Regions from separate parts of the Homo sapiens genome. Here region 1 is linked to region 2. The links come from fine-mapping of genetic effects on gene expression. Tissue or cell type: monocytes after LPS. Region 2 holds a variant in brackets; the other region holds the start of a gene. All regions are shown on one strand. Distances are from middle to middle. Region 1 holds the start of BRI3BP (BRI3 binding protein). Region 2 holds the start of THRIL (TNF and HNRNPL related immunoregulatory long non-coding RNA).

What was found.
Region 1: BRI3BP starts here. The variant in region 2 is fine-mapped to the expression of BRI3BP in monocytes after LPS (Fairfax 2014, PIP 0.95). The same link has a PIP of 0.9 or more in monocytes.

The regions. Positions count from the first base shown.
Region 1 is chr12:124,986,744-125,001,707 of GRCh38, reverse strand. It overlaps BRI3BP (BRI3 binding protein), which reads right to left and starts at 8,063. Exons shown (of 3, transcript NM_080626.6): 1 at 7,705-8,063. The coding sequence starts at 7,917. DHX37 (DEAH-box helicase 37) reads left to right here and starts at 12,577. Exons shown (of 27, transcript NM_032656.4): 1 at 12,577-12,791. The coding sequence starts at 12,686. RefSeq lists enhancers at 5,864-6,003, 7,184-7,273, 8,993-9,493, 14,114-14,657 and silencers at 7,364-7,423, 7,434-7,683, 7,694-7,743, 7,844-7,893, 7,914-8,233 and 1 more.
Region 2 is chr12:125,019,127-125,034,090 of GRCh38, reverse strand. It overlaps BRI3BP (BRI3 binding protein), which reads right to left. Exons shown (of 3, transcript NM_080626.6): 3 at 2,860-9,100. The coding sequence ends at 8,661. THRIL (TNF and HNRNPL related immunoregulatory long non-coding RNA) reads left to right here and starts at 6,668. Exons shown (of 1, transcript NR_110375.1): 1 at 6,668-8,648. The variant C/T (reference allele first, on the strand shown) is at 8,533.

The sequences.
Region 1 (14,964 bases), 32 kb after region 2:
AGAAATGTCAATGCTGTAAAAGTCCCTTACTGGGCCAGGCGAAGTGGCTCACGCCTATAATCCCAGCACTTTGGGAGGCCAAGGCGGGAGGATCGCATGAGCCCAGGAGTCAAGAGACCAGCCTGGGCAACACAGGGATTTCGAGGAGAAATCCTGTCTCTACGAAAAATACAATAAATAAATAAATAGGCATGGTGGCACATGCTTGTAAGCCCAGCTACTCAGGAGGTTAAGGTGGGAGGATCGCTTGAACCCAGGAGGCAGAGGTTGCACCGAGCCGAGACTGCGCCACTGCACTCCATTCTGGGCTACAGAGTGAGAGCTTGTCTAAAAGAAAAAAATGCATAATTGGGGCCGGGTGCGGTGGCTCATGCCTGTAATCCCAGCACTTTGGGAGGCCGAGCCGGGCAGATCACGAGGTCAGGAGATCCAGACTATCCTGGCTAACACGGTGAAACCCCATCTCTACTAAAAATACAAAAAAAATTAGCCGGGCGTGATGGCGGGCACCCTTGGTCCCAGCTATTTGGGAGGCTGAGGCAGGAGAATGGCGTGAACACAGGAGGTGGAGCTTGCAGTGGGCCGAGATCGCGCCACTGCACTCCAGCCTGGGTGACAGAGCAAGACTCCGTCTCAAAAAAAAATAAAAATAAAAAAAAATTCATAATTAAGTCCCTTCCTCCACCAAAAGTGAGGAAACTCTGACAGACTAGAGACATGAACACTAAATGCATGAGCAGTCCTTGACTGGGTGTTGGATTTTTTATGAGCTATAAAGACAATTTGAATATGGACTATCTGTTACAAAATACTGTACTATATTTAAGTTTCTTGGCTGAGACAATGGTATTGTGGTTCTGTAGGAAAAAGTATTAAGACGTCTGCAACTAACTTTCAAATGATCCTGCCAAAAAATAAAAATAAATGTGTGTGCATGTGTGTATGTGTCTATCGGATGTGTTTGCAGAGAAAAAAGTTTGAGGGGAAATGTAAGAACTGGTGACTTTAGGGGAGATGTTTGCAGCTATTCCTTGTTCTGTTCTTTCAGCATTTTAGTACTTTGAAAAATTATCAACATAAAAAATTATAGGAAACAGGCTGGGCGTGGTGGCTCACGCCTGTAATCCCAGCACTTTGGGAGGCCGAGGCAGGCAATCATGAGGTCAGGAGATCGAGACCATCCTGGCTAACATGGTGAAACCCCGTCTCTACTAAAAATACAAAAAATTAGCCGGGCGTGGTGGTGGGCGTCTGTAGTCCCAGCTACTCGGGAGGCTGAGGCAGGGGAAAGGTGTGAACCCGGGAGGCAGAGCTTGCAGTGAGCCGAGATTGCGCCACTGCACTCCAGCCTGGGTGGCAGAGCGAGACTCCCTCTCAAAAAAAAAAAAAAAAAAAAAAATCATATGAAACTTTATCTTAACTGTGGTAATTTTTCACAAGTGTGTATGTCAAAAGGTGTCAACCTGTACACTTTAAATACGCACAGTCTATTGAGGTGTAGTGCAATTACACCTCAAAAAAGCTGTTAAAATGTTGGTAGGGGAAAAAGGACTGGAAAGTGTCAAAGTTATTTTGCTCAAAATACTTTCTTGCAAACAGCAAAAAATGCAAACCTCTTTACAAAAAAAAAAAAAAAGCAAAAACAAAAGAACCCAACAGCTCAATAGAACGGCAAAAAAAAAAAAAAAAAAGAAAAACCAAAAGGCAGTTCCCAGAACATATCGATGGATTCTGAATAAATGAAAAGACCATCTGTCTCATACATAATAAAGCCAAAAAGTTTAATGAGGCTGGGTCGGGTGTCTCACACCTGTAATCCCAGCACTTTGGGAGGCCGAGGCGGGCGGATCACGAGGTCAGGAAATCGAGACCATCCTGGCGAACACAGTGAAACCCCGTCTCTACTAAAAACACACAAAAAAATTAGCTGGGCATGGTGGCAGGCGCCTGTAGTCCCAGCCACTTGGGAGGCTGAAGCAGAAGAATGGCATGAACCCAGGAGGTGGAGCTTGCAGTGAGCCGAAATTGCGCCACTGCACTCCAGCCTGGGCGACAGAGGGAGACTCCGTCTCAAGAAAAATAAATAAATAAATAAATAAAAATAAAAAATAAAAAACTTAGCAGGGCATGGCGGTGCAGACCTGTAATCCCAGCTACTTGAGAGGCTGATGCAGGAGGATCATTTGAGCCCGGGAGGTAGAGACTGCAGTGAGCCAAGATTGAGCTACTGCACTCCAGCCTGGGCGACAGAGGGAGACTCTGTTTCAGGGAAAAATAAAATAAAAATACAAAACAGTGCGCATAGTGCAAAATAAACAAAAACCAACAATAGGGAGCAGATCTATAGATCCATATATTTATACATGTTCAGAATATCTGGCTGCTTCGGGGAAGGGGGTGGTAGACGGGTCGGTAGTGGGAAGTGGAGTTAGTTTCTTAACCTTCAGAACTACATGAAATTGTATTCCATGCAACTACGACCAAGGAGCAAGGGAAAAAAGTACTAGTTTCTCGACCTGGCATTCAGGATGTTTCCACCACATCAGTCCAGCTATATTCTGCCTGAGAGGAATCATTTTCTCCACATACAGTAGGTGCTTGAAATTTTTCATTTGTTTGTTTTTTTTGGAGACAAAGAGTTTTGTGCTGTCCCTGAGGCTGGAGTACAGTGGTGTGATCACAGCTCACTGTAGTCTCAACCTCCCAGGATCAAGCGATCCTCCCTATGCAACCTCCCAAGTAGCTGGGACCACAGGTGTGCGCCACCATGCCTAGCCAAAGGTTTTGGTTTTTCGTAGAGATGGGGTCTCACTATGTTGCCCAGGCTGGTCTCAAACTCCTGGGCTCAAGCAATCCTCCCACCTAGGCCTCCCAAAGTGGTGGGATTACAGATGTGAGCCACTGCACCAGGCCAATTTTTTTAAAAAACTGTAGTCATATACACATAAAGTTGGCCATTTTAACCATTTTAAAGTGTACAATTCAGTGGCATGAGCACGTTCACAATATCATGCAACCATTATTATCTAGTTCCACAATCTGTCATCACCCCAAAAGGAAACCCTAGATCAATTAAGCAGTAATTCCCCCATTGCTCCCTCCCCCAGCCCCTGGCAACCACCCATCTGCTTTCTGTCTCTACGGATCTTCCTATTCCAGATATTTCATATGCTGTAAATGGAATCATATAATGTGTGCCCTTTCGTGACTGGCTTCTCTCATTTATTCAAGGTTCGTCCAAGTTGTAGCATATAGCAATACTTCATTCCTTTTTATGGCTGAATCATATTTCATTATACAGACACATCACATTTTATCCCTTCATCAGCTGATAAGACATTTGGGACATTTCCACTTTTTAGCTATTGTAAAAAGTGTTGCTATGAACACATGTGTATAAGTTGCTTAATAATTTTTTTTGAGACGGAGTCTCTGTTCCCCCGGCTTGAGTGCAGTGGGGCGACTCAACCTCACCGCAACGTCAGCCTCCCGGGCTCAATCTATTCTCCTGCCTCAGCCTCCCAAGTAGCTGGGATTACAGTCGTGCACCACCACGCCCAGCTAATTTTTTTTTTTTTTTTTTGAGACGGAGTTTCACTCGTTGCCCAGGCTGGCGCGCGCAACGGTGCAATCTTGGCTCACTGCAACGGCCGCCTCCCGGGTTCAAGCGATTCTCCTGCCTCAGGCTCCCAAGTAGCTGGGATTACAGGCATGCATCACCACGCCTGGCTAATTTTTTGTATTTGGTAGAGACAGGGTTTCACCATGTTGGTCAGGCTGGTCTTGAACTCCTGACCTCAGGTGATCCATCCACCTTGGCCTCCCAAAGTGCTAGGATTACAGGCGTGAGCCACCACACCTGGCCTAATTTTTGTATTTTTAGTAGAGACAGGGTTTCGCCATGTTGACCAGGCTGGTCTCGAGCTCCTGACTTCAGATGAGCTGCCCACCTTGGCCTCCCTAAGTGCTGGGATTACAGGTGTGAGCCACCATGCCAGGGCATCACTTAATAATTTTTAAAGGAATTAACAAGTCTATTACCTCCTACCAGACAAATTCCCTTCATATAGAAATATTCTACCATTTACTAAATGCTTATTCAGTCCCTGGCATTGTGCAGCCCAACCAATCTCCTTTAATTCCCCAATTTATCTCCTCTGAACAAATGGGACACAGATAAGTAAAGCAACTGGGTGGTGCACGGTGGTTCACGTCTGTAAATCCGGCACTTTGGGAGGCCGAGGCAGGCAGATCACCTGAAGTCATGAGATCGAGACCAGCCTGGCCAACACAGTGAAACCCTGTCTCTACTAAAAATACAAAAATTAGCTGGTCGTGGTGGCATCTGCCTGTAACCCCAGCTACTAGGGAGGCTGAAGCAGGAGAATTTCGTGAATCCGGGAGGCGGAGGTTGCAGTAAGCCGAGAGCTCGCCATTGCACTCCAGCCTGGGAGAAGAAGCGAGACTGCATCTCAAAAAAAAAAAAAAAAAAAGAGAAGTAAAGCAAAAAAAAAAGAGAAGTAAAGCAACTGGCTCAGGGTCACAGAGCGAGTGAGAAACAGCTAGGATTCAAACTCATGTCTGTTCCCATGCTCCAAACAGGATGGTCATAGGTGTATTTCAGACAAGTCCTAGATTAGAATATGGGAGGCCGGGCACGGTGGCTCAAGCCTCTAATCATAGCACTTTGGGAGGCTGAGGAGGGCGGATTACGAGGTCAGGAGTTCGAAACCAGCCTGGCCAACATGGTGAAACCCCATCTCTACTAAAAATACAAAAATTAGCCAGGCATGGTGGCACACACGCCTGTAATCCCAGCTACTCAGGGGGCTGAGGCAGGAGAATTGTTTGAACCTGGGCGGCAGAGGTTGCCATGAGCCAAGACTGAACCACTGCATTCCAGCCTGGGCGACAAAGCAATACTCCATCTCGGAAAAAAAAAAAAAAAAAGACTATGGGGTGTTTTTTTAAATACCATTAAACTTCACAAAGCAGGTTTGGCTCTAATTCGTAAACCCAGGCATGCTGAAAACTACAGTTGCTGGCAGACCCAGTTTTCCTTTATTTAAAATTCACAAAACAGGCTGGGCACGGTGGCTTACGCCTGTAATCCCAGCACTTTTGGAAGGCTGAGGTCGGCAGATCACTTGAGGTCAGGAGTTTGAGACCAGCCTGGCCAACATGATGAAACCTCATCTCTACCAAAAACATAAAAAATTAGCCGGATGTGGTGGTGCTCACTTGTAATCCCGGCTACTCACTTGTAATCCCGGCTACTCAGGAGGCTGAGGCAGGAGAATTGCTTGCCCAGGAGGCAGACGTTGCCGTGAGCCAAGATCGTGCCAACGCACTCCAGCCTGGGTGACAGAGTAAGAGTCTGTCTCAAAAAATAAATTAATTAATTAAATTTAAAAAAAAACCCATAAAATTAACAAAACAATATCCCCAAGCCTGGCCAGTGTGGGCTACACTCAGCAGGAAATAAAATAAGTCAGGCCAGGTGCAATGGCTCACACCTGTAATCCCAGCACTTTGGAAGGCCGAGGCGGGAGGATCACTTGAGGTCAGGAGTTTGAGACCAGACTGGTCAACATGGTGAAACCTCTTTTCTACTAAAAATACAAAACTTAGCCAGGCATGCTGGTGGACACCTGTAATCCCAACTACTTGGGAGGGTGAGTGGGGAAGATCGCTTGAACCTGGGAGGTGGAGGTTGTAGTGAGACGAGATCACTCCACTGCACTCCAGCCTGAGCAACAGAGCCAGACCTCCGTCTCAAAAAAACAAAAAGGAAAGAAGTCAGGTCAGCCTCTGGATGCTGTACTGACTCGGGGAACAGGGAAGGGGTCATGAAGCAGGAAAACAGGCGAGAGATACTAATGTGGGCTCCATGTCCACTCTGCCTAGGTTCACATCCTGGCTCTGCCACTCATCTGACCTGAAACCAGCCACTTCACTGCTCTGTGTCTCAGTTTCCTCATCTGTCAAATGGGAACAGTAACAGTACCTACTGCACAGGGTCATTCTAAGGATTACATAAGATTATTCTATCTACAAAAGCACTTAGTAATCATTAGTATCTCTATTAAAGGCACAAACCCCGGTTTAGCCCAGGAAGAGCTCTGACCCCCAGATTCGGAGATGCTCTGCCAGAATACAGATTGTCTTATTTAAGTAAAAGTCTTAAATAACCACTCGTATTTCATGTTTGTTGGCCTTAGATTGTCACATGGAACCACCGTCAGTTGAGACATGGGGATCCTGTGGTCACCCTGCGTGAAAAAGACAGGCTTATTTTTGCTCTAAAACAAATGATTTCTGCCTTCAAATAGCTCCGAAACGGCATCAAGAGGAAGTAAGTGAGACTCCCTGCACTCACACCCCTGATCCTTTCCCGCGCCAGACTCCAGGGCAACCTTTTCACATTCAGGCGTTCAGCCCTGCTTCCTTGCCCCTCTTTGGCCACCTACAAAGCGTTCTCTCCCCTACATGTATGAAGACACAGACCCACCTGTGCAAGAGGTGCCCCTGCCCACAGGAGAGGGAGGTCAAAACTTACTGTTTTCCTAACAAATTAACCTTTCATGTTATCCAGTAAGAACATGCAGTCAATCTGATTTCGGCCTTCATATTCCCTTCTATTCCCCACTCCCTCTCAATGAGCAGAAAACTTTAACTTTTTAGCCATGATTCTGGGCCAGGAAGGTACCAACTAGTCATAATTACAACCTCGCAATGAAGGGGAATGATTACTATCCCCATTTAACAAATAAAGAAACAAGCTCAAAGAAGTGAAGTCACTTCCCCAAAGTCATCCAACTGGTAGAGCTCCAACTTGAACCCAAACTTCTCTGACTCCAAAACCCCAGGAAGGCTGGCGGCAAGCAAGAGCCCCCTCCTCCCCAGGGAACAGCAAAGGAACCGCAATACCACACACAACTGTCCCCAGTAACTTCCTCCTTCTCAAGAGCTAGTCGGCGGACTTCGGCCCGGAATGGCACCCCTATCGCACCTAGCTCCAGAGAGCAGGAATTGGGGAAAACCCCCTGCGATCCTCCTGGGACTCAACACCCTTCCCAGGAGGCTGCAGGATCCGGGACCTCCCCAAACTAAACAAAAGGCTCCACGCGAAAGGCCCCGCACACAGTAGGTGCTCGGTTTCCCAAAGCCACCGAGCAAATCGCATTGCTCCCTTCTTTTCCTGTAAAGTAAAAACAACTCCAAGTATCTTCAAAGCAGGAGGAGGAGTGGGGCAGAAGGTCCCAGGGGAAGTGGGTCGGGATGCGAGGCTAGGACAAACCCGGGGTAGCTGGGGAGGGCGCAGCCGCGTGGGGACCGAGAGCGCCAGTGTGCTGCCTGGCTCACAGTAGGAGCCATTCAAACGCGGTGAATGAATGAATGAGACGCGCGGCAGGCGTCAGCGCAGCCGGGAGAGACTCTGGCTGCGCCGACCGCGGAGGCAAGGTCCAAGGAGAAGCGCGGCGCAGAGGAGAGGGCGCCCCGAGGCCCGGCCGCCCAGACCCGCACTGGTCAGGCCCGGCGGGGGCCGCAGGCGGCAGGCCCCGAGGCGCAGGCCGGACCCCCTCTTCCCGCGCGCTGGCCGGGCGGGCAGCCCCGGAGGCCGCGCTCCTCCCAGGTCGGCCCCGGTAGCCAGGTGCGTGGCGACCGGGGCAAGGTGACCGCGGGCGCGGGCCCGGCGCCCACCTTCTGAGCGGCGCGCACGTTGTCCTCGCCGAACAGGCTGCTGACGCTCTGGGAGAAGGTGTTGACCGTGCGGCGGTAGCTGTTCTTCTCCGCGCCGCCGCGGCCCCGCGCCCCCTGCGCGCCCGGGGCCAGCAGCCCGAGCAGCAGCAGCAGCAGCAGCAGCAGCAGGAGCCCGGCCCGGGCCAGGGGCCCGCCTGAGGCGCGCGCGCCCATGCTCGGCCGGCGGGGCGCGGGGTCGCGATGCGGGGTGAGGGCCGTGCGCTGGGCCGCAGCGGGCTCCGGCTAGGGCAAGGTTGGCGCGCTCGGGGGCCGCGCGCCGCGCCTTTACCCACAGCCGCCGCCGCCGCTGCTGCGCCACCTGCCCCGCCCCGCGCGCAAAGGCGCACGGCCCAGCCCACGCCGCGCCCCGCCCCCGGCGCGGGACCAACGCGACCCGGCCCCGGGGCCCCGCGCCCGCCTCCCGGAAGCCTGCCCCGACCCGGTGCGGCTTCTCATCATTTAAAAAAAAATTCTCTTTTTTAACTTATCCGTGGAAAAGCAACCCGTGCCTGTAAAACTTGCAACAGCTTCAACCAGGAAAGTGACTGCAACTGATTGAAAAACATGAAATAGACATATATGTAATCTCCCTGAATGTATTATAATGGTACCCCAAAATTCGCCCTCGTGGGCATCAGCTCATTCATCCTGAAAATTTTAAATAACAAGAAAGCATCAGGCATCCTCCTGCCCTTCCTGAATGAACTGTATTTCAGAGCCCCAAAATAGTTGGGGAGGGACTTTCTTTTACAAAGTCCAGCTAATACATGAGGATGAATGAGAGAATCCGAAAATTATTTGGCACCCCTCAATAGAATGATGGATTCACGCGATGATCATCAGAAATGGGTACAACCAAGAGGGGAGGGTTTGGCGGGGAACTTGAAAATGGAGGGGCTAAGCCGCGAAGTCCCGGTCCCGCCAATCGATCTTAGTGCCAGGAAGTACCAGCGCCACCTGCGATGGATTCTTGCCAAGACAAGTTGAGCATGAACCTGATGGGGCCTCTAGATCAAACCTACAGTTTACAGGAAATATGGCAGATAAGGAAAACTTAGAAGCAGCAGAAGCAACCAACCAACTCCAGCATGTGGGGCATTCTACCAAACAAACGACCCAGTTTGTTCAATAAATAATTGGTATAAAAGGTGAGCGAAGAGGAGGATAATTGGTTTTAAAGACTTAAGAGCCATAATAACCCATGCAATGCAAGGACCCTGTTTGCATCCTAAATCAAACAAATCAAGTCTAACCAACATTTTTTTTAGACAACCAAGAAAATAAAACTCAATTTTTGCCAATCCAAAGAATACAAAATGCTCTTATTTTTGAATTTACATTTTCTGGATTCCTAGTAAGATTTTCATAGATTTATTGGCCATTTGAATTACTTCTCTGTGAATTACCTATTCATATCCTTTGCACATTTTTTCCTGTATTGTTTATCTTTTTAAAAACTTTTTTGTAGGTCGGGTGCGGTGGTTAACGCCTGTGATTCCAGCACTTTGGGAGGCTGAGGCGGGTGACCTGAGGTCGGGAGTTCGAGACCAGCTTGACCAACATGGAGAAATCCCTCCGTCTCTACTAAAAATACAAAATGAGGCCAGGCGCCGTGGCTCACGCCTGTAATCCCAGCACTTTGGGAGGCCGAGGCGGGCGGATCACAAGGTCAGCAATTTGGGAGGCCGAGGCGGGCGGATCACGAGGTCAGGAGATCGAGACCATCCTGGCTAACACAGTGAAACCCCGTCTCTACTAAAAATACAATAGCCGGGCGTGGCGGCGGGCGCCGTAGTCCCAGCTACTCAGAGCCTGAGGCAGAAGAATGGCGTGAACCCGGGAGGCGGAAGTTGCAGTGAGCCGAGATCGTGCCACTGCACTCCAGCCTGGGCGACAGAGCGAGACTCCGTCTCAAAAAAAAAAAAAAAAAAAAAAAAAAATCCAAAATGAGCCAGTTATGGTGGTGCCTGCTTGTGATCCCAGCTACTCGGGAGGCTGAGGCAGGACAACCGCCTAAACCTGGGAGGCGGAGGTTGCAGTGAGCCGAGACTAAGCCACTGCACTCCAGCCTGGGCAACAAGAGTGAAACTCCGTCCCAAAAACAAAACAAAACAAAACAAAAACCTTTTTTTACGCCAGGTGTAGTGGCACAAGCTTGTTTTGGGAGGCCAAGGCAGGAGGATTGCTTGAACACAGGAGTTCGAGGCCAGCCTGGCCAACATAGTGAAACCTATCTCTATAAAAAATGATAATAATAATAATAATAATAAACTTTTTAATTAAGGTATAACATACAGAAAAATACACAATCATATAAATTTTTATGAATTTTCACAAACTGAATACCCAAGGTAACCAGCACCCAAATCAAGAAACGAAACATTACCAGTTCCCCCACGAAGCCTCCCTTTGTCCCCTCCCATTCACTATGTTCCTCTTAAAATTTAGGGGATTCATTTGCCTGTGTTTGAAGTTTATGTAAATGAACCACACAGTACTCTGGGGGTTGGCTTCTTTTGTTCAACTTTTTTTTTTATTTATTTTTTATTTTTTGAGACGGAGTCTTGCTCTGTTGCCCAGGCTGGAGTGCAGTGGCATGATCTCGGCTCACTGCAACCTCCGCCTCCGGGGTTCAAGCGATTCTCCTGCCTCAGCCTTCCGTGTAGCTGGGACTATAGGCACGCGCCACCACACCCGGCTAATGTTTGTATTTTTAGTGGAGACAGGTTTCGCCATGTTGGCCAGGCTGGTCTCAAACTCCTGACCTCAGGTGATCCGCCTGCCTTGGCCTCCCAAAGTGCTGGAATTACAGGCGTGAGCCACCACGCCCAGCTTTTGTTCAACTTTATATTTGTGAGATCCATCCATGCTGTTATGTATCTGCCTTCTTCTTGCTGTCTAGAATGGTCTATACCTTCTGGAAGGTAATTCACTGATATATTATATTTTAGAAGGAAATATAGGCAAGTGTACTACTACCTACTTAACATTTTTTAAACGTTTCTTAAACTTTTAATTTATTTAAATAAACATATTTAAAGAAGAAACTTTAGATCACTATCATCCTGAGCAACAAAATCCATAAAAACACAGATTTGAGCCTGGGTGCAGTGGCTCAGGCCCGTAATCTCATCATTTTGAGAGGCCAAGGTGGGCCGATCACTTGATGTCAGGAGTTTGAGACCATCCTGGCCAACATGGTGAGACCCCATCTCTACTAAAAATACAAAAATTAGATGGGCATCTTGGTGGGTGCCTGTAATCCCAGCTACTTGGAAGGCTGAGACAGGAGAATCGCTTGAACCCGAGAGGTGGAGGTTGCAGTGAGCCGAGACTGCTCCACTACACTCCAGCCTGGGCGTCAGAGGGAGAGTTCTGTCTCAAAAAAACAAAAACAAGCAAACAAACAAAAAACCCCATAGATTTGATACGCTAATTATGATTTTTTTAAACGTCATTCATTAAGGCCTTCACAGTGGCTTATGCCTGTAATTCCGGCACTTTGGGAGGCCGAGACAAACGGATCCCTTGAGCCCAGAATTTTGAGACCAGTCTAAGCAACATAGGGAGACACCATCTCTACAAAAAAATAGAAAAATTAGCCCGTCGTGGTGGTGTGTGCCTGTAGTCATAACTACTCAGGAGGCTGAGGTGGGAGGACAGGTCAAGGCTGCAGCGAGTGGTGATTGCACCACTGCACTCTGGCCTGGCCCACAGGGCGAGATCTCATCTCTTAAAAAAAAAAAAAAAAAAGTCGGGCGCGGTGGCTCATGCCTGTAATCCCAGCACTTTGGGAGGCCCAGGCAGGCAGATCACGAGGTCAGGAGTTTGAGACCAGCCTGGCCAACATGGTGAAACTCCGTCTCTACTAAAATACAAAAACTAGCTGGGGGTGGTGGCGGGCACCTGTAGTCCCAGCTACTCGGAAGGCTGAGGCAGGAGAATCGTTTAAACCCGGGAGGCAGAGGTTGCAGTGAGCCGAGATTGCTCCACTACACTCCAGCCTGGGCAACAAAGCCAGACCTTGTCTCAATAATAATAATAATGCATTGTTTCCCAGTGTGTTACAATGTGATGCGGTAATGGGAATTTAAAGTTATGTAATAGACAACTTTATTTTTTTTTTTTTGAGACAGAGTCTAGCTCTGTTGCCCAGGCTGAAGTGCAGTGGTGCAGTCTCGGCTCACTGCAACGTCCACCTCCCGGGTTCAATCAATTCTCTGCCTCAGCCTCCCAAGTAGCTGGGATTACAGACGCCTGCCACCAGGCCTAGCTAAATTTTTTTTGTATTTTTGGTAGAGACGGGGGTTTCACCATCTTGGCCAGGCTGGTCTTGAAATCCTGACCTCGTGATCCGCCCGCCTCGGCCTCCAAAAGTGCTGGGATTACAGGCGTGAGCCACCGCGCCCGTAGAGGCCTCCTTTTAGATCTTCCATCTATCCCTGTGATGGAAATATTTGGTGCCTTTTTAAAAGTACACGACTAATACGTTTCTTGTAGGAATATCAGAAAATACAGATGCGCAAACCAGGGTTGGGGGGAAGAAGTTTGGAGTACTGGGGGCGGGGTATATTTTAAAAGGTGGCAAAACACTTCCACTCCCAAGAAGCCAAATTAGTATCAGTAGATATAATTCATATTTAAACCCAGACTACCCCAAGCGAGAACAGCCCAGGACTTAAACTCCGGCCTCCGCTGGGACCTCAGGCCCCGCCTACTTCTCTAAATAGTCCCGCCCCCTGCCCGGCCCGGCTCCGCCTCTCCTCTTCGCTGGGTTTCTCTTGCAACCCCGCCCCTCAGCGGCAAAGTCAGTTACAGTTCTCGCGATAACACAACCCGGAAGTCTCACGGCCGGAGTTGGTGGTCTGGGAACCCACGTGGGCTGGGTTTCGGATTGCTCTGCTGGTCCGGCCGCTGGAGCGCCCACCCTGGCCTAGTCGCCATGGGGAAGCTGCGCCGGCGCTACAACATCAAGGGGCGCCAGCAGGCGGGCCCCGGACCCTCGAAGGGCCCCCCCGAGCCGCCCCCCGTGCAGCTGGAACTGGAGGGTAAGACATCCCCGGACCGGGGCTGGATTTCGGAGATTTCCCAGGGCGGCCTGTGCCCTGCCTTCAGGACTCTCGGGTGGGGATCCCAGAGGGGTGGGATGGATCATCTGGAATGGGGGAATGGGTCCCCCCATTCCAGATGATCCAAAGGAGAGGGGCTTAGTGACAGCCTAGTTTTAACAGTGTATATGGAATACCCGGGATTTCTCTCGCCCTCAAATAGTAACATGGAGAATTTGGCAAAAAAAACAGGAGTAGTTCCATCCCTTCCCATGACTTCGATTATAATCTCTTTATAATCTCCAGCGACCCCCAAATGTGTATTTTCAGCCCAGTCTTGTCTGCTCAGCTCCAGGCTGGCTGACATTTCTCTCAGACCCCTTTTTAGGAGTAGCCCTTATTACATGCCAGGCACTATTCTAGGCACTGGAGACATAGCAGAAAGGGAGATTTTTAGAAAATCCCTGAGTTTACCTGCTGTATAGGAGGAGACAGGCAAAGAATAAACATATAGAAATTTATGCGGCTATAGTGAGCAGATAAAACAGAAGAGGCCATTGGGTGGGTTGCAGCATCCCATAGAGTTGCTGGAGAAGACATCACTCTGTTAGAGTCAAGATCTGAAGGAGACCTGAGTGGCTGCCTGGAGATGAGAGAAAAAACAGGGGGCCAGGGCAGGTCGGGCCTGGACTGCAGTCTTGGCGAGGACTGGGGCTTTTTCTCTACGGGAGAGGGCAGCCATGGGAGCATTTAGAGCAGAGGAGGCGTGGTGGTGGGCACCTGTAGTCCCAGCTACTTGGGAGGCTGAGGCAGGAGAATGGCTTGAACCCAGGATACGGAGGTTGCAGTGAGCCAAGATCGCACCACTGTACTCTAGCCTGGGTGAGAGAGCGAGACTCCATCTCAAAAAAAAAAAAAAAAAAAAAAAAGTTCCACAGACAGGCTGGGAGTTGAGGCAGATCCCCTAACATCTCTGTGCCTTCGTTTTCACATCTGCAGAATGGGACCAGTAGCACACGTTGAGCAGCCTTAATCCAAAATACTCCAAAATTCAAAAGTTTTTGAGTGTCAACATGACACTTAAGGAAATGCTCATTGGAGCATTCCAGATTTCAAATTTTTAGATTAGGGATGCTCAACCAGTGAATAGAATACAGATGTTCCTAAAGCTAAAACAGGTCTGGTTCCTAGCATTTCTGGAAAGGGATATTTAACCTGTAGTAGCCGTCTTACCTCCTATCAGAGTTTTGGAGATGGTAATTTGGGAAAATATGTTGCTTTGAAAAGTAAAGAAAGGTTACAGAGGTGGGGTGTGTCCCAGGACAGGTGACAACCGTTATGATGGCAGTGACAATTCAGGATGGCACCTCAAAGACAGCCGTAGACACTGGGCTGACACTTGGAACTGGACCACCTGAGCAGAGGGGCTGAGGTCTCTCAGACCCAGAGATTTGGGGAAAGTTGTTTCTCACATCAGAACAGGACATTTCCATGTATCCCTGCCTTTCTCAGGGGCCAGAGGAATCTCATAAGAACATGACTCAGATTACCTTCTTTTATTTATTTATTTATTTGAGATGGAGCCTTGCTCTGTCGCCTAGGCTGGAGTGCAGTGGCGTGATCTCTGCTCACTGCAACCTCCACCTCCCGGGTTCAAGCAGTTCTCGTGCCTCAGCCTCCTGTGTAGCTGGGATTATAGGTGCATGCCATCACACCTGGCTAGTTTTTGTATTTTTTGTAGAGACGGGATTTTGCCATGTTGGCCAGGCTGGTCCCCAACTCCTGGCCTCAGGTGATTTTCCCAAAGTGCTGGGATTGCAGGCGTGCGCCACCGCGCCCGGCCCCACCGTACACTCTTAGGAGAACATCAGGCTGGGTGCAGTGGCTCACGCCTGTAATCCCAACACTTTGGGAGGCTGAGGCGGGTGGCTCACTTGGGGGTCAGGAGTTCGAGACCGCCTGGCTAAGATGGTAAAACCCCGTCTCTACTAAAAATACAAAAATTAGCTGGGGCGTGGTGGTACATGCCTGTAATCCCAGCTACTTGGGAGGCTGAGGCGGGAGAATTGCTGGAACCTGGGAGGCGGAGGTTGAAGTGAGCTGAGATTGCGCCACTGCACTCTAGTCTGGGGGACAAAGTGAGACACCGTCTCAAAAAAACAAAAAGAGAAAA
Region 2 (14,964 bases):
TGGGCAACAAGAGTGAAACTCCGCCTCAAACCAAAACAAAACAAAAACAGCCTGGGTGGTGGCTCACGCCTGTAATCCCAACACTTTGGGAGGCCGAGGCAGGCAGATCATTTGAGGTCAGGGGTTCAAGACCAGCCTGGCCAACATTGTGAAACCCCATCTCTACTAAAAAATACAAAAATTAGCTGGGTGTGGTGGTGTGCGCCTGTAATCTCAACTACTAGGGAGGCTGAGGTGGGAGGATTGCTTGAACCGTGGAGATGGAGGTTGCAGTGAGGCGAGATCTCACCACTGCACACTAGCCTGGGTGACAGAATGAGACTCTGTTTCAAAAAAAAAAACAAAAAAAAACCAGAAAAACAAAACAGTACAGGGGGCCTTGGTTAGAAATAGGAGTGTAAACCAAAAAGTGACTGGGGCAGGTCTCAATGGATTAGTGGCTTATTTTGTCAAGGTTGACGCCGGGCCCAAGGAAAAGAAACATAAGTCACAGTAGGATCTGTGGCCTGTGCTGTTTCCAAAATGGGTTCTGAGGACTTAAATATTTAAAGGGGAATGCGCAAGCAGGAGGGGAAGGATGGAAGAAAAATGTGGGGAATGGTAGGCAGTGAGGCAGGGCTGAGTCTCACTCGGCTTTGACGAGCACTCATGAATCTACATTTTATGTATATTTATGTATTCATTTTTATCTATTTTTCTGAGACAGAGTCTCACTCCGTCGCCCAGGTTGGAGTGCAGGGGCGCCATCTCGGCCCACTGCAACCTCTGCTTCCTGAGCTCAAGTGATCCTTCTGCCTCAGCCTCCCAAAGTGCTGAGATTACAGGCTTGAGACACTACACCCAGCCCAAATCTACATTTTACACAAGATAAAGTAGGCAGCTATCTGTTTGGGAAGCAAAGGAAGGAAGTTTGTGTTTGTTTTTTTTGTTTGTTTGTTTTGTGGCTCAGTTCCCAAGCTTAACTTTGCCCTTGGCATAATGAGTTTGAGATCCCGAGATTCTATTTTTCCTTCATAGGTGCAAAGGGGCTGGTAGCAATGCCGCCAGCTGCTCTGGGGCTGCAGCGGGATTGGCAGCGGGCAGAAGGGGCAGTGGGAGATGGTGAGGCTGTAGCTGGTCAGGCTGGGGCAGGGTTCCCGGCACCCTCTAGGTCCGAGGAACACTGCCCTCGGTGACTTCTCCTGTGAAGTCTCATTCCTCTTGTACTTGACATTCCTCTTAATCCCCATCCGATAACCCACTCCCTCCTCCTCCTCGGCCTATGGTGTTTAATTCGAATGTTGCTTTCAATGCATTCTTACAAAATGATTATATTTTGAGATAGGATCTCACTCTGTTCCCCAGGCTGGAATGCAGTGGTGCAATCATGGCTCACTGCAGCCTCAACCACCTGGGCTCAAGCGATCCTCCCACGTCAGCCTCCCGAGTAGCTGGGACTGCAGGCACAGGCAGGCGCCACTGCACCCAACTAATTTATTTACTTTTCGTAGAGGCAAGTTCTCACTATGTTGCCCAGGCTGGTCTTGAACTCCTGGACTCGAGCGATTCACCTGCCTTGGCCTCCCAGTGCTGGGATGACAGGCGTGAGCCACTGCACCCGGCCACAAAATAGTAATTTTTTTTGTTTGTTTTTCAGACGGAGTTTCACTCTGTCGCCCAGGCTGGAGTGCAGTGGCGCGATTTCAGCTCACTGCAACTTCCACCTCCTGGGTTCAAGCAATTCTCCTGCCTTAGCCTCCCGAGTAGCTGAGACTACAAGCACTTGCCACCACGCCCGGCTAATTGCATTCTTAGTAGAGACGGGGTTTCACCATGTTAGCCAGGATGGTCTAGATCTCTTGACCTCGTGATCCGCCCGCCTCGGCCTCCCAAAGTGCTGGGATTACAGGCATGAGCCACCTCACCCGGCCAAAATGATTATTTTAATAGCAGGTATTGACTTTATTCAAATGAGCTGCCCCTCCTCATTCTGGTTTCCTTCTCACCCCACGCTGTTACTGTCATTACTACCTACTGCACGTCCTCCAGTGCCTCACCGCCCCCGCTCACCTGCCTGCTTTCCCAGTGACAGGCCACCCAGGCTGCCCCCAGATAACTTCACAATAACTAGCCTCAAATTGTCCCCTTATCGACCTATGTGAGATTGTCTTTGCGTAAAAAGCAGGAGCAGTACTCTTGGGTTAAGAGTAATTATACTTGGTCAAGGTAAATTATACTCCTGTTACATTTGCTCCTAAATGTTTACTAAGAATAGGATTTTTAAGGCTGGGCATGATGGCTCACGCCTGTTATCCCAGCACTTTGGGAGGCCGAAACGGGCGGATCACTGAGGTCAGGAGTTGGAGACCAGCCTGGCCAACATGGTGAAACCCCATCTCTACTAAAAATACAAAAATTGGCCGGACATGCTCGCTTGAGCCCAGGAGATGGAGGCAGCAGTGAGCTGAGATCTCGCCACTGCACTCCAGCCTGGGTGAGAGTCCATCTCAAAAAAAAAAAAAAAAAAAAAAAAAAAATAGAAAGAAAAGGATTGTTAGGACCTGAGAAAGCAGCATGGGTATGCGGGGTGGGGTGGAGAGGCACGCATCACTGTGCTAGGACTGTCAGATTTGGCAACTAAAAATACAGGAAACTTGCTTACATTTGAATTTCAGATAAGCAACCAACACTTCTACACTATACTAAAACACTACTGGTTGTTTATCTGAAATTCAAATTTAACTGGGCATCCTGTATTTTATCTTGCAACCTTACCTCCAACTGAATACATAAATTCAAGGTTTTATGACTCTTCTCAGATCGAGGAATAGAACCATAGAATCCTGGTTACACATCAAAACTGGGGAAACTCCACAAATGTTTGGTTAGAAGTGATGAGATATATTTTAAAAGTCCATACAACAAAATTACAATAAACATTTATTAAGCTGTAATTTTCACAATATTTTAATTCTGTTCTGAGATCTACAAATATCTCTACATAACACCAAAGCCAGTGATTTAATAAATAAGAGGAATGTATATATCGCTTTGCAAAAAAATGCCTGATACATTTATCTCTATATAAGATATTTGTAGAATCAGTTTCCCAAGGCTCACGAAACTAAAGTGCACACACACACACACACCATGTACACACACACACTATTCAAATCAAATGGATTTATATTAAGTGCCAAATTAAATGCTATACAAAATTTATAACCAGATACACAAAATATGAAGTCAATCATGAATCCACTGTTGATAATGGATACCATACCTCACAAGTGTGATTTCCAGTTAAGAAGAGGGAGACAATTGCTTCATTGGGTTTTTAGTGTGTGCTAATCACCATCACCATCACAAGTTAATCAGTTTAATTACATGGTATTCAGAGATTAAACACACATGCAGATATTAAATGGACACTACAATAAAACCTTTAAATCTGCAAAAAGACATGAGAACACATGGTCAATAATACCACTCGCTGCCACAGCTTTTCAGTAGACAATGCAAATGGCAATCAGCGTTTTAAGCCACCACAAGAGAAAAACTGGTACTGGTGCACCTCCTACATATCAAGGAAAAGCAAAACACAGAATAATTTAATATGCTGAATAAAATTTGTTTACACCAGATACTATACATCACACTGATGGTTGTCCAGTATGAATTTTAAGGGTATTATGTTAGATTCTGCAAAATATATTCCTATTATTCACAAGTGAGGAGTCAAAGTCCAACTATTCAAATGGCCATAAACAAAAATGTTGCAGAAGGTATAGACCATTAAAAATAAAAAAGTCAGGAGTGGGGCAGCTGACCCCTTAGGAGCCTCAGGAATTCCTTTTAATGCAAGATAGATGGCAAGAGCTGGCTTTTTGGTTAAGTCAGCCAGTTCGGAAACCCATCAGGGAGAAGTTATCAGGTGTCAACTTGTAAGGCAGATGACATTCATCAAAAGCATCTTAAGAAGTAGCAGTGATCACAGAAAGGAAGCAATTCAGGATTTCCACTAGCAACAAATTGCATTAACCATGTCTAGGCCATTTGACAGCTGTTATTCTTAACGCTCCATAAGCCTGAATCACAGGGCCAGATGAGCGACTAAGCTGCTCACATCCTCTCTACAAGGCAGCCCTCCCGGGCATGCACAAAGTCATATTATAGTCTTCCTAATCACTGACCCAAACCTTTGCGTTCTTACTCAGCTCCCCAGAGGGGACCACCCCACTTGGTTACCACCATCACAGTCATAAAGACATAGTCCCAGTTCCCTGACATCGCTGCCTCCCGACTCCTGCATGAGACAGGCTCTCATTTCTGGGGTAAGTGTATGAAACACCTTTCAACGGCATTCACTTACCCTTTGTGAATTAAGACACAGGCACGATTCACAAGGTCTGCTTCCCAGAAATTCTATTGCTGTGCTCTGTTACCAGAAATGATATGGGGGCTGAAATCCAAAGCAAAAGAAACCAAAGGGCGGGTAATGCCGACTGGTATTGGAAAGTGTGTGTGTGTGTATATATATATACATATATATACACACACACACACTTTTTTTTTTTTTTGAGACTGGGTCTCACTCTGTCGCCTCAACTGGAGTACAGTGGTGTGATCTCAGTTCACTGCAACCTCTGCCTCCCAGGTTCATACAATTCTCCCACCTCAGCCTCCTGAGTAGCTGGGACTACAGGAACCCACCACCACACCTGGCTATTTTTTTTTTTTTTTTTTTTTTTGTATTTTTTGGTAGAGACGGGATTTCACTATGTTGGCCAGGCTGGTCTCGAACTCCCGACCGCAAGTGATCCACCCGCCTTGGCCTCCCAAAGTGCTGGGATTACAAGCTTGAGCCACTGCACCCAGCCTGGAAAGTATATTTATGAAAGGTTTGCACTCCACAAAAGCATCTTTGCTAGGGTGTCAAGGAAGAGATCACTAAACCAACCCCAACACATCCATACAATTCCAGCAATCTAGAGAGGGCTGGTCCTTTTCCTTTTCTGGATTATTTTCTGTTCTCAGTAAAACAAGTATTTACTGTGATACTGAAACACTGGGAAATTAACACTGATTAAGATATTTTAAACACTGAGTCTTAATTATAACAGAACCAGTTTTCATCAGAATGCTTTTACGTCACATTCAGTGAAGTGTTACGCTAATATATTCTACAGCCCTGAAGATAGAAAAAAGGTTTCTCTCCAGGTATGAGATATGGTACAAAAATACATTTTTCCACATACAAAAGAGAGAAAAAAACAAAGACATGTGGCGGGTGGCGAGGGGAGGCCCAATCCCAACACCCTACAAGGTTCCATGGAATGGAGAAGGAACAAAAAAATCCCCAATTATTTTGGGGTAAGATGTGCCCCAGAAAAGGTGAAATCTATGCAATAAAACCCAGGTTTTCTTCAAATCTAGCATCTAGGATTTCTATCAGAGTTTCAAATAATCAGAATTTCTATCAGAATTTCTACCCTGAGGTGACACCTACTAACTGTAGGTTCTTTCATTAAAAATGAAGACATCTTTCACCAGAATGTATCAAGCTATAAAACTGGCTTCAGAGCCTACACTTAGCCAGAGTGGAAAAAAAAAATAGTGCATATTTTCGACAGCAATTTTGAATTGATGCTTGAGGTCTCAATCCACCAGCACCCAGATATCATGTTACCTCCCTCAGTTGAATACAAGTTAAAATGATGATCTTATCGAGATCTCAATAGAGCACAGTGCCCTTCATGTTTCGGGTAAGAGGGTGGGAGGAGGAATGAAGCGGGTATTACACCCAGCCCAGTGACAGCTTAAGCCTTAACATGCGGGCATCTTACAATGACCATAAACAAGGGAGGGGCCAAGGCAGGGCTGGCGATCATTAGCTTTGCGCACAGAATGCCATGTTTTCCCCTGGCCAACATAAGCAAAGCTGTTTTAGTACCTAAACGTGGTATAGCCAAATGCACAAAAGGAAAGAAGATAGAGATGACCTCCCGAGTTATTTATACCTTGTGCTAAAATAGATTCATCTACAAGTATCTAAATGACAAAACTAGAATGATTTCAACCCAGTAATCCTGTGTTCCAATGTGCATGGATAAAGATTTGATCTAGGCCCAGCGCGGTGGCTCACGCCTGTAATCCCAGCACTTTGGGAGGCCGAGGCGGGCGGATCACGAGGTCAGGAGATCGAGACCATCCTGGCTAACACGGTGAAACCCCGTCTCTACTAAAAATATAAAAAATTAGCCGGGCATGATGGTGGGCGCCTGTAGTCCCGGCTACTTGGGAGGCTGAGGTAGGAGAATGGCGTGAACCCAGGAGGCGGAGCTTGCAGTGAGCCGAGATGGTGCCACTGCACTCCAGCCTGGTTGACAGTGAGACTCCATCTCAAAAAAAAAAAGATTCGATCCAGCAAATAATTTTTTTTGAGACGGAGTCTCACTCTGTTGCTGAGGCTAGAGTGTGGTGGTATGATCTCAGCTGACTGCAACCTCCGCCTCCCATGTTCAAGCGATTCTCCAGCCTCAGCCTCCCAAGTAGCTGGGATCACAGGCGCCCACCACCAGGCCTGGCTAATTTTTGTATTTTTAGTAGAGACGGGGTTTCACTCTGTTGGCCGGGCTGGTCTCAAACTCCTGACCTCAGGTGATCCACCTGCCTTGGCCTCCCAAAGTGTTGGGATTATAGGGGTGAGCCACCCTGCCCAGCCTGCTCCAGCAAATCTTAAATATCCATGCACACTGAATAAACATGCACCTGAAACAGGTGCACGTTTCAGGAAGTGAATGGAACTCTCCAGGAGAGTTTGGGTCCCATCATGTGTACCTTAGAAACAGAAGTCTCAAAAGTCTCAACAACATCCACAAAAACATCTGCATCTGTTTTCCAGATACTTGCAACCAAAAATAAAACTTCACAGGAACACTACACAAGAAGTGGTAGACAGCTAAATCTTCTCCAAACTGAGACCTGGACCATAAGGTCTTGGTTGTAGCAGGTCTGGCAGGGGTTATCTATAAACCTGCACGCAGGGCACTGTGAGCGGGTTGCCAGGGTACATCTGTGGCCAGGTAAGGGCCACAGAGACAGTCGTGATCCCCAGCAGCTTCAAAGCTGCAAAATGCTGGGCTTTTTTTTTTTTTTTTAAGATGAAGTCTTGCTCTGTTGCCTAGGCTGGAGTGCAGTGGCGTGATCTCGGCTCACCGCAACCTCCACCTCCCAGGTTCAAGCAATTCTCCTGCCTCAGCCTCCTGAGTAGCTGGACTACAGGCACCCACCACCATGCCTGACTAATTTTTGTATTTTTAGTAGAGACGGGGGTTTCACCATGTTGGCCAGGCTGGTCTTGAACTCCTGACCTCAGGTGATCCATACTCCTCGGCCTCCCAAAGCGCTGGGATTACAGGCATCAGCCACTGCGCCTGGCCTAGGGCTTTCTTTTTTAAAAAACAAGTCCTAACAAAAGGGGGTTTCTACCAGCCCCTGAGCCACACCTTCTGAAACTCCCTTGCCCAGGATCCCCACAGCTGTCCACCTCGCAAGTCCCACTCTCTGCCCACAGAGACTGCCTAAAAGGAGGACACAACAGATTTCAGATAAAAAGCACCTGTGTATCGTAAATATTTCAGGAAAAAGAATTCAGATCTTTTCAAAGGCTTGCTTATTGCTGCTAATTGTTCCTGAGGATCTTTCTAAGCAGCAATATACTTGAGAATATTAGCTGCTACTGTTTGTTTTCCCTCTAAGGTCCTGAGGAAATCAAAAGAAAAAAAAAAAAACCCTCAAGGGTATAGCTTTTGTATATAGCCCTAGTGAGCAAACTGCAAATTGGGACATGCAGTAGATTCTGGAGCAATCTCCAATCCTTACCAGGTACTTCCTGGCATCAAATCCCCAGGACATTTCTTGGCCCCTCCTTGCATTTTCCGTTTCAAAATGTTGAGGTTAAAATACATCGAAGCACAGAGGGAAGAAAATCTCAGGTCTTCTAGAAATGGCGATGTCTTCATTTAAAAATAGGACTGATGGGGGCTTGGCAGGGGTCTCTAGGATCCAAAAGAGGTTGAGTTGCATCCTGCAGCCCAACTGTCCACATTTAGAAGTGACAACATTCATGAACTAAGTCAACATCCACCAAAAATAACATGAAATAAAGCTCACAGTTTGGGAACATGAAAATAACGCACACAGACCTCACCCACCAATCCCTAAGCTGTGAAAACAAACGCTCGCATTTAAACTTTTCTCAAATGTCAAATTAGCATATTCTTCCCCTCCATGTAAAGTTTTAATAAACTTGACTCAATCTGCCTTTATTAAAAAACCTTACAAAAGATGTATTTAAATGCTTGAAAAAATTAACTTTATGCTCTATGCACAGATAAATTTCTCTTACTGTACAACTAAATATGGTTATATCCTTTGTTTAAAAAATATTTTTTCCCCCACTAATTACACTTCGTGTGTAGTTCCACGTCAATGATCTTTCCGCTCTTCTGGGAATGTGTCCTAAGAGCTGCCGGGTGGGTGGAAATAGCC[C/T]TACACAGCGCCACTTTCTTGCTCAGTCGTGTTTATTAAGATTGTTTGGGGTTTGGGGTTTTTTTCCTCCGTTTTCGTTTTCTGAGACAGCGTGCTGGTAACTGTGGACCCGCCCGGCCGGCTGACCTTCACTTGTCCTTGGAGCGGTCCAGGCTCTCGAGCACCCGGTTGAGACGGATGTTGAGCAGTCTGACCTGCTTCTCCAGGTGCTCCAGCTTCTCCTCCACGCTGGGGTTGCTGGGGTTGCTGGGGCCGCTGGGACTGCTTCGCCAGTAGAAGCCCATGGGCCCGGTCATGAAGTAGACGGCCACCACGAAGCACAGCGGCAGCACCGCGTTCTCCGGCTCGCCCTCGTACTTGTGCAGGATGTACACGCAGGACATGGAAAACAGGACGACCCGCACGATCCAGAAGAAGCGGCCGAACACCACGTGCAGGACGCTGAAAGTGAAGCCCAGGGTCAGGGACAAGAACCAGTAGGCCAGGAGGACGACGCCGACCAGCAGGAGCGCGCGGGCCGGGCTGCTGGACACCGAGGCTGGGCTGAAATACTGGGACAGGTTGGAGACTGCGGGACAGAAAAGAGGAACAGGGCTCGTTACGCAGGGGCCAGGGGTTTCTTAACAAGCTAGAATTGGATAGTTGAGCTGGCCTGTGGGGCTTAAAAGGCCTTTGCAACAACCAAAGGAACTCAAGGAAGTTCCTCTGTGAATAGTCACACTTTGCTCCATGAGGACACACAGGGAAGCCTCTTTTTTTTGAGATGGAGTCTTGCTCTGTTGCCCAGGCTGGAGTGCAATGGTGTGATCTCGGCTCACCACAACCTCCGCCTCCTGGGTTCAAGCAATTCTCCTGTCTCAGCCTCCGGGGTAGCTGGGATTACAGGCATGCGCCACCACACCCGGCTAATTTTGTATCTTTAGTAGAGACGGGGTTTCTCCATGTTAATCAGGCTGGTCTCGAACTCCTGACCTCAGGTGATCCACCTGCCTCGGCCTCCCAAAGTGCTGGGATTACAGGCATGAGCCACCATGCCCAGCCAGGGAAGCCCTTTAAGACGACCTGCCATGTTGAGTTTTAAAAACCTCTCCATATACTGGTTTCTCTTCAAATCATATACATCTTTCACCTTTAGCCTGGGCAACATAGTGAGACCCTGATATGGACTGGCTCTGTGCTCCCACACAAATCTCATCTTGAATTATAATCCTCACGTGTGGAGGAAGGAACCTCGTGGGGGGTGATTGGATCATGGGGGTGGTTTCCCCATGCTGTTCTTGTGACAGTGGAGGGGGGGGGGTTTCATGAGATCTGATGGTTTAAGTGTTTGGCAGCTGCCCCCTTTGCTCTCTCTTTCTCTCCTGCTGCCTTGTGAAGAAGGTGCTTGCTTCTCCTTTGCCTTCTGCCATGATTATAAGTTTCCTGAGCCACGCAGAACTGTGAGTCAATTAAACCTCTTTTATTTATGCATTACCTAGTCTCAGGTTTTTTGGTTTTTTTGTTTGTGTTTTTGAGGTTGGAGTGCAGTGGCACAATCTTGGCTCGTTGCAACCTCTGCATCCCAGGTTCAAGCAATTCTCCTGCCTCAGTCTCCCAAGTAGCTGGGATTATAGGCACATGCCACCACACCCAGCTGATTTTTGTATTTTTAGTAGAGATGAGGTTTCACCATGTTGGCCAGGCTGGTCTTGAACTAGTGTCCTCAAGTGATCCACCTCCTCAGCCTCCCAAAGTGCTGGGATTACAAGTGTGAGCCACTGCGCCTGGCCTCGGGTATGTTTTGATAGCAGTGTGAAAATAGACTAATACAGACCCAATCTCTAGAGAACACAAATTTTAAAAAAATTAGACAGGTGTGGTAGCACACACCTGTAGTCCCAGCTACTCAGGAGGCTGAGGTGGGAGGATCACTTGAGGCTGGGAGGTAGAGGCTGCAGTGAGCCATAATGTGCCACTGCACTCCAGCCTGTGTGACAGAGTAAGACTTTGTCTCAAAAGACAACTTTCACCTTTTACTAAAACACCTCTGGAAGTGGGGCATAGCCTGCAAATTGTCCTTCAATTTCCATAGTAACAAATGCCCACCTTCAGGCTGGGCACACAACTACCTAGGATTAAAGCATTTCCTAGCCTCTCTTGCAGCTACATAACTAAGCTTTGGCCATGTGTTCCCTAAAAGTAGCAGGAATGTGTCCTTTACCTCTTCTGCCTGCTGGAACATGGATACAATGGCTGGAACTGGAGCAGCCATTTTGGAAGGCACTCATGGAGGAACAATAAAATGGAAGGTGCTTTGGTCCAGAGCACCACATGCATCAGAGCCATCAAACCCGCCTCACCACCTCCCTGAGAACTTTCATATAAGAGGGAAATAGGTGTCCATCTTGGTTAAGCCAATGTTATGTTGGATTTCTGTTTCAGCCAAACCTGATCCTAACTGGTACCCACACACGAAGTTCCATCTCAAGAATGCAGTGAAATGTAAGAGTAGCATCTTCTGTGTGCCTGACTTGAAGAAATTCAAACAAAAAAGTTAAAAGAACAGTAGAATATTCCTTTTGAAACCAACTAGACTGAACAATTATTAAAAATTCTGAATGTTGCATTCTCTATTTACATACTTTTTAGATTAACCCATTTGAAAGATGTACACATCATACTTCATCATACATCTAAGAATAAAGACATCATTCACCTCAAAACCATGATACTATCATCATTCTAAGAATATTAACAATTCCAGGCTGGGCACGGTGGCTCATGCCAGCATTTGGGAGGCCAAGGTGGGTGGATCACCTGAGATCAGGAGTTTGAGACCAGCCTGGCCAACATGGTGAAACCCCATCTCTACTAAAAATATAAAAATTAGCTGGGCGTGGTGGCGCACACCTGTAATCCAAGCTACCTGGGAGGCTGAGGCACGAGAATCGCTTGAACCCAGGGAGGCAGAGGTTGCAGTGAGCCAATGGCGCCACTGCACTCCAACCTGAGACACAGTGAGGCTCTGTCTCAAAAAATAAATAAATAAATAAATAAATAATAAATTAACAATTCCATATAACATCACTTGAATTTCTCAGTTATCCAGGAATAGCTGTTTCCTCCCAACCCTCACCAGGACCCAGCGACAGTTCACGTTCAGCATTTGCCATCACTTTAGTCTCCATTAATTGAGAAGAGACCCATGACATTTTAGAAACACTGAAATTCTGAAGTCTAATTTTTCCAGGATGGTTTTCTTGCAGGAGGTCCCACATGCTGCAATTGTTTGTTTCCTGACAGTGTTGTTTAATGAGTTCAAGGAGAGTTATATCCTAAGCCTTCTCACACAAGCAGTTCTCAAACTTGTGTGATTCCTCCAGGAATCCCCTGGAGGGCTTAGGAAAACAGGTTGCTGGGCCCCACCCCCAGGACATCTGATTCAGTAGGTCCTGGGTGGGCCCAAGAATCTGTGGTCTTTTTTTTTTTTTTTTTTTTTTAAGACAGGGTCTTTTTCTGTCACCCAGGCTGGAGTGTGATGGTGTGATCTCGGCTCACTGCAGCCTTGACCTTTTGGGCTCAAGCGATCCTCCCACCTCAGACTCCCGAGTAGCTAGGACTATAGGCATGCACCACCACAGCTGGCTAATTTTTGTATTTTTTTGTAGAGACAGTGAAGTGGTTTGGTTCTGTGTTCTCACCCAAATCTAATTTCAAATTGTAATCCCCACGTGTCCAGGGAGGGACCTGGTAGGAGGTGATTGGATCGTGGAGGTGGTTTCCTCCATGCTATTCTCATGAAAGTGAGTGAGTCTCACGAGATCTGATGGTTTAAAAGTGTTTGGCAGTTTACCCCTCGCTCTTGCTTCCTCTCTCCTGCCACCACGTAAGACGTGCCTTGCTTCCCCTTTGCCTTCCGCCATGATTACAAGTTTCCTGAGGCCTCCCCAGCCATGTGGAACTGTGAGTCAATTAAATCTCTTTTATTTATAAATTACACAGCCTCAGGTAGTTCCTTATAGCAGTGTGGAAACCAGCAAATACAGATAGGATCTCGCTATGTTGCCCAGGCTGGTCTCGAACTCCTGAGCTCAAGCAACCTGCCTGCCTTGGCTTCCCTAAGTGCTGGGATTATAGGTGTGAGGCACCACGCCCAGCCAAAGAGGACCAAAGTGTGACACAACGATCTGGAGTGGGCAAGCGCAAATCCAGAGCAGGCCTGAGATGGGAAGCCTCAACCCTGGAGCTCCTCCGGTCAATAACGACACCTACGGCGTGAACATCTCATAGTTCCCCAAAATGATCAGACTCCGCACAGCTGGCCAGTGTCTAGAGTCCAACACTGTAAACAGCAGCCATCTCTGGGACTAAAGGCTTGGGGTCACCAGGACTCCCCAGAAGCCAGAGTGTGTTTGCTACACTGTGCCTTCCTGAGGCATCGTGAGCATTTTGACTAAATGTGGTTGACTTGGGAGCTGACTTTCACACCTGTCCCCTGCAGACTGGAGGCTAAACCAGTGTTTCCCAGACCTCTCAGTCTCAAGACCGTTTGCACTCTTCAGTATTATTGAAGCGTCCCCAGAGCTTTCGTTTATGTGGGTTCTACCTAACTGATATATTTTCCATAGCAGAAAATTAGGTAGTTTTTAATTAGTTGTTAATTATCTTTTAAATTTTATTATTTATTTATTTATTTATTTGAGACAGAGTCTTGCTCTGTAGCCCAGGCTAGACTTCAGTAGCATGATCTTAGCTCATTGCAACCTCTACCTCCTGGGCTCAAGCGATCCTCTCACCTCAGCCTCCCAAGTAGCTGAGACTACAAGCATGCACCACCAAGCTAATGTTTTGATTTTTTGTAGATACAGGGTCTCACTGTGTTGCCAAGGATGGTCTCAAACTCCTGGGCTTAAGCAATCCATCTGCCTCAACCTCCCAAAGTGCTGGGATTACCAGATGAGCCACTGTGTCCAGCCATTGTTAATAATTTAAAAACATTGCTATCATTAACTCATTTTCAAATAACAACCCATTACAGATGCTAGGCTTTGAGTATTTGTGTCCCCCACAAAATTCCTATGTTGAAATCCTAACCCCAAAAGTGATGGTCTTAGGAGGTGGGGTCCTGGGGAGGTGATCAGGTCGTAGGGGTGGAGCCCCCATGAATGGGTTTAGTGCCCTTATAAAGAGGTCCCAGAGAACCGCCTTGTTCCTTCATGTGAGACACAGTGAGGCATCGTCTACAAGAAAGGGCTCTCCCCACAGCCTGCATCTGCCAGTGCCTTCATTTTGGACTTCCTGCCTCCAAACTGTAAGAAATGAAAATGTCTGTTAGGCCGGGCACGGTGGCTCATGCCTGTAATCCCAGCTCTTTGGGAGGCCAAGGTGGGCAGATCATCTGAAGTCAGGAGTTCGAGACCAGCCTGACCAATATGGCGAAACCTTGTCTCTATTAAAAAAAATACAAAATTAGCCGGGCATAGTGGTGCATGCCTGTAATCCCAGCTACTCAGGAGGCTGAGGCAGGAGAATCACTGGAACCCGGGAGGCTGAGGTTGCGCCACTGCACTCCAGCCTGGGCAACAGAGAGAGACTCCATCTCAAAAAAAAAAAAAAAAAAAAAAAAGTCTGTTGTTGATAAGCCACACAGTCTATGGAATTTTGTTATAGCAGCCTGAACTGACCAAGACAATAGGTTAACACAAAATATTTTTCACAAAAAGCAACTGTTTCTAAAGCAGAACAAACCACTCTGAGAACAGTGGCAGTGCTTTGAATGTTTGCCAGTCTCTTTCCTATCTAGCTATTTAGAGGAGACCTGGCCCCCAAATCTGGTTTTGAATTCAGAGGAACAGAACACCAGCCACAAATGTGAGCCATGTTTGTCACTGAAAATTTTCAAGTACTCACAGCAAAAAAGGCAAAAAAAAAAAAAAAAAAAAAAGGGTGGAATTAATGTTAATAAGATATTTTGTTTAATCCAATCTATCTAAAATGTCATCATCTTAACGTGGCATCAATATATATGGAAGTATTAAAGTACGTACTGAATCCCTGACCTCAGAGACATGTTACGGGAGAAGAGAGGAACTCACAGTCACCCCTCCTAACCAAAAGGGTCTCAGGGACCTCCTGGGGTTCCTCTGAGCATACTTTGAGAAGCATCGTGTCATCAAGGGGCCAAGATAGTGATCAGCCAGGAAAGATGCCCAGAGACGAGAATGCCACCCCTGCCTTCCACCTCTCGGTGACTTCAGTGAAAGCTGTCCTTTAAACCAAGGAAGGGTGGTCCAAAGCAACGTCACTCCGAGGCCCTGAAAATCCTAAAGAAAACACGAGTGGCCCTGCACGTTCTGACAGCAAAGGGGCACCGTCTGACTTCCCTAGCGCTGCCATGGCCAAGTAGCTAAAAAGGAGTAGAAGGCCGGGCGCAGTGGCTCATGTCTGTAATCC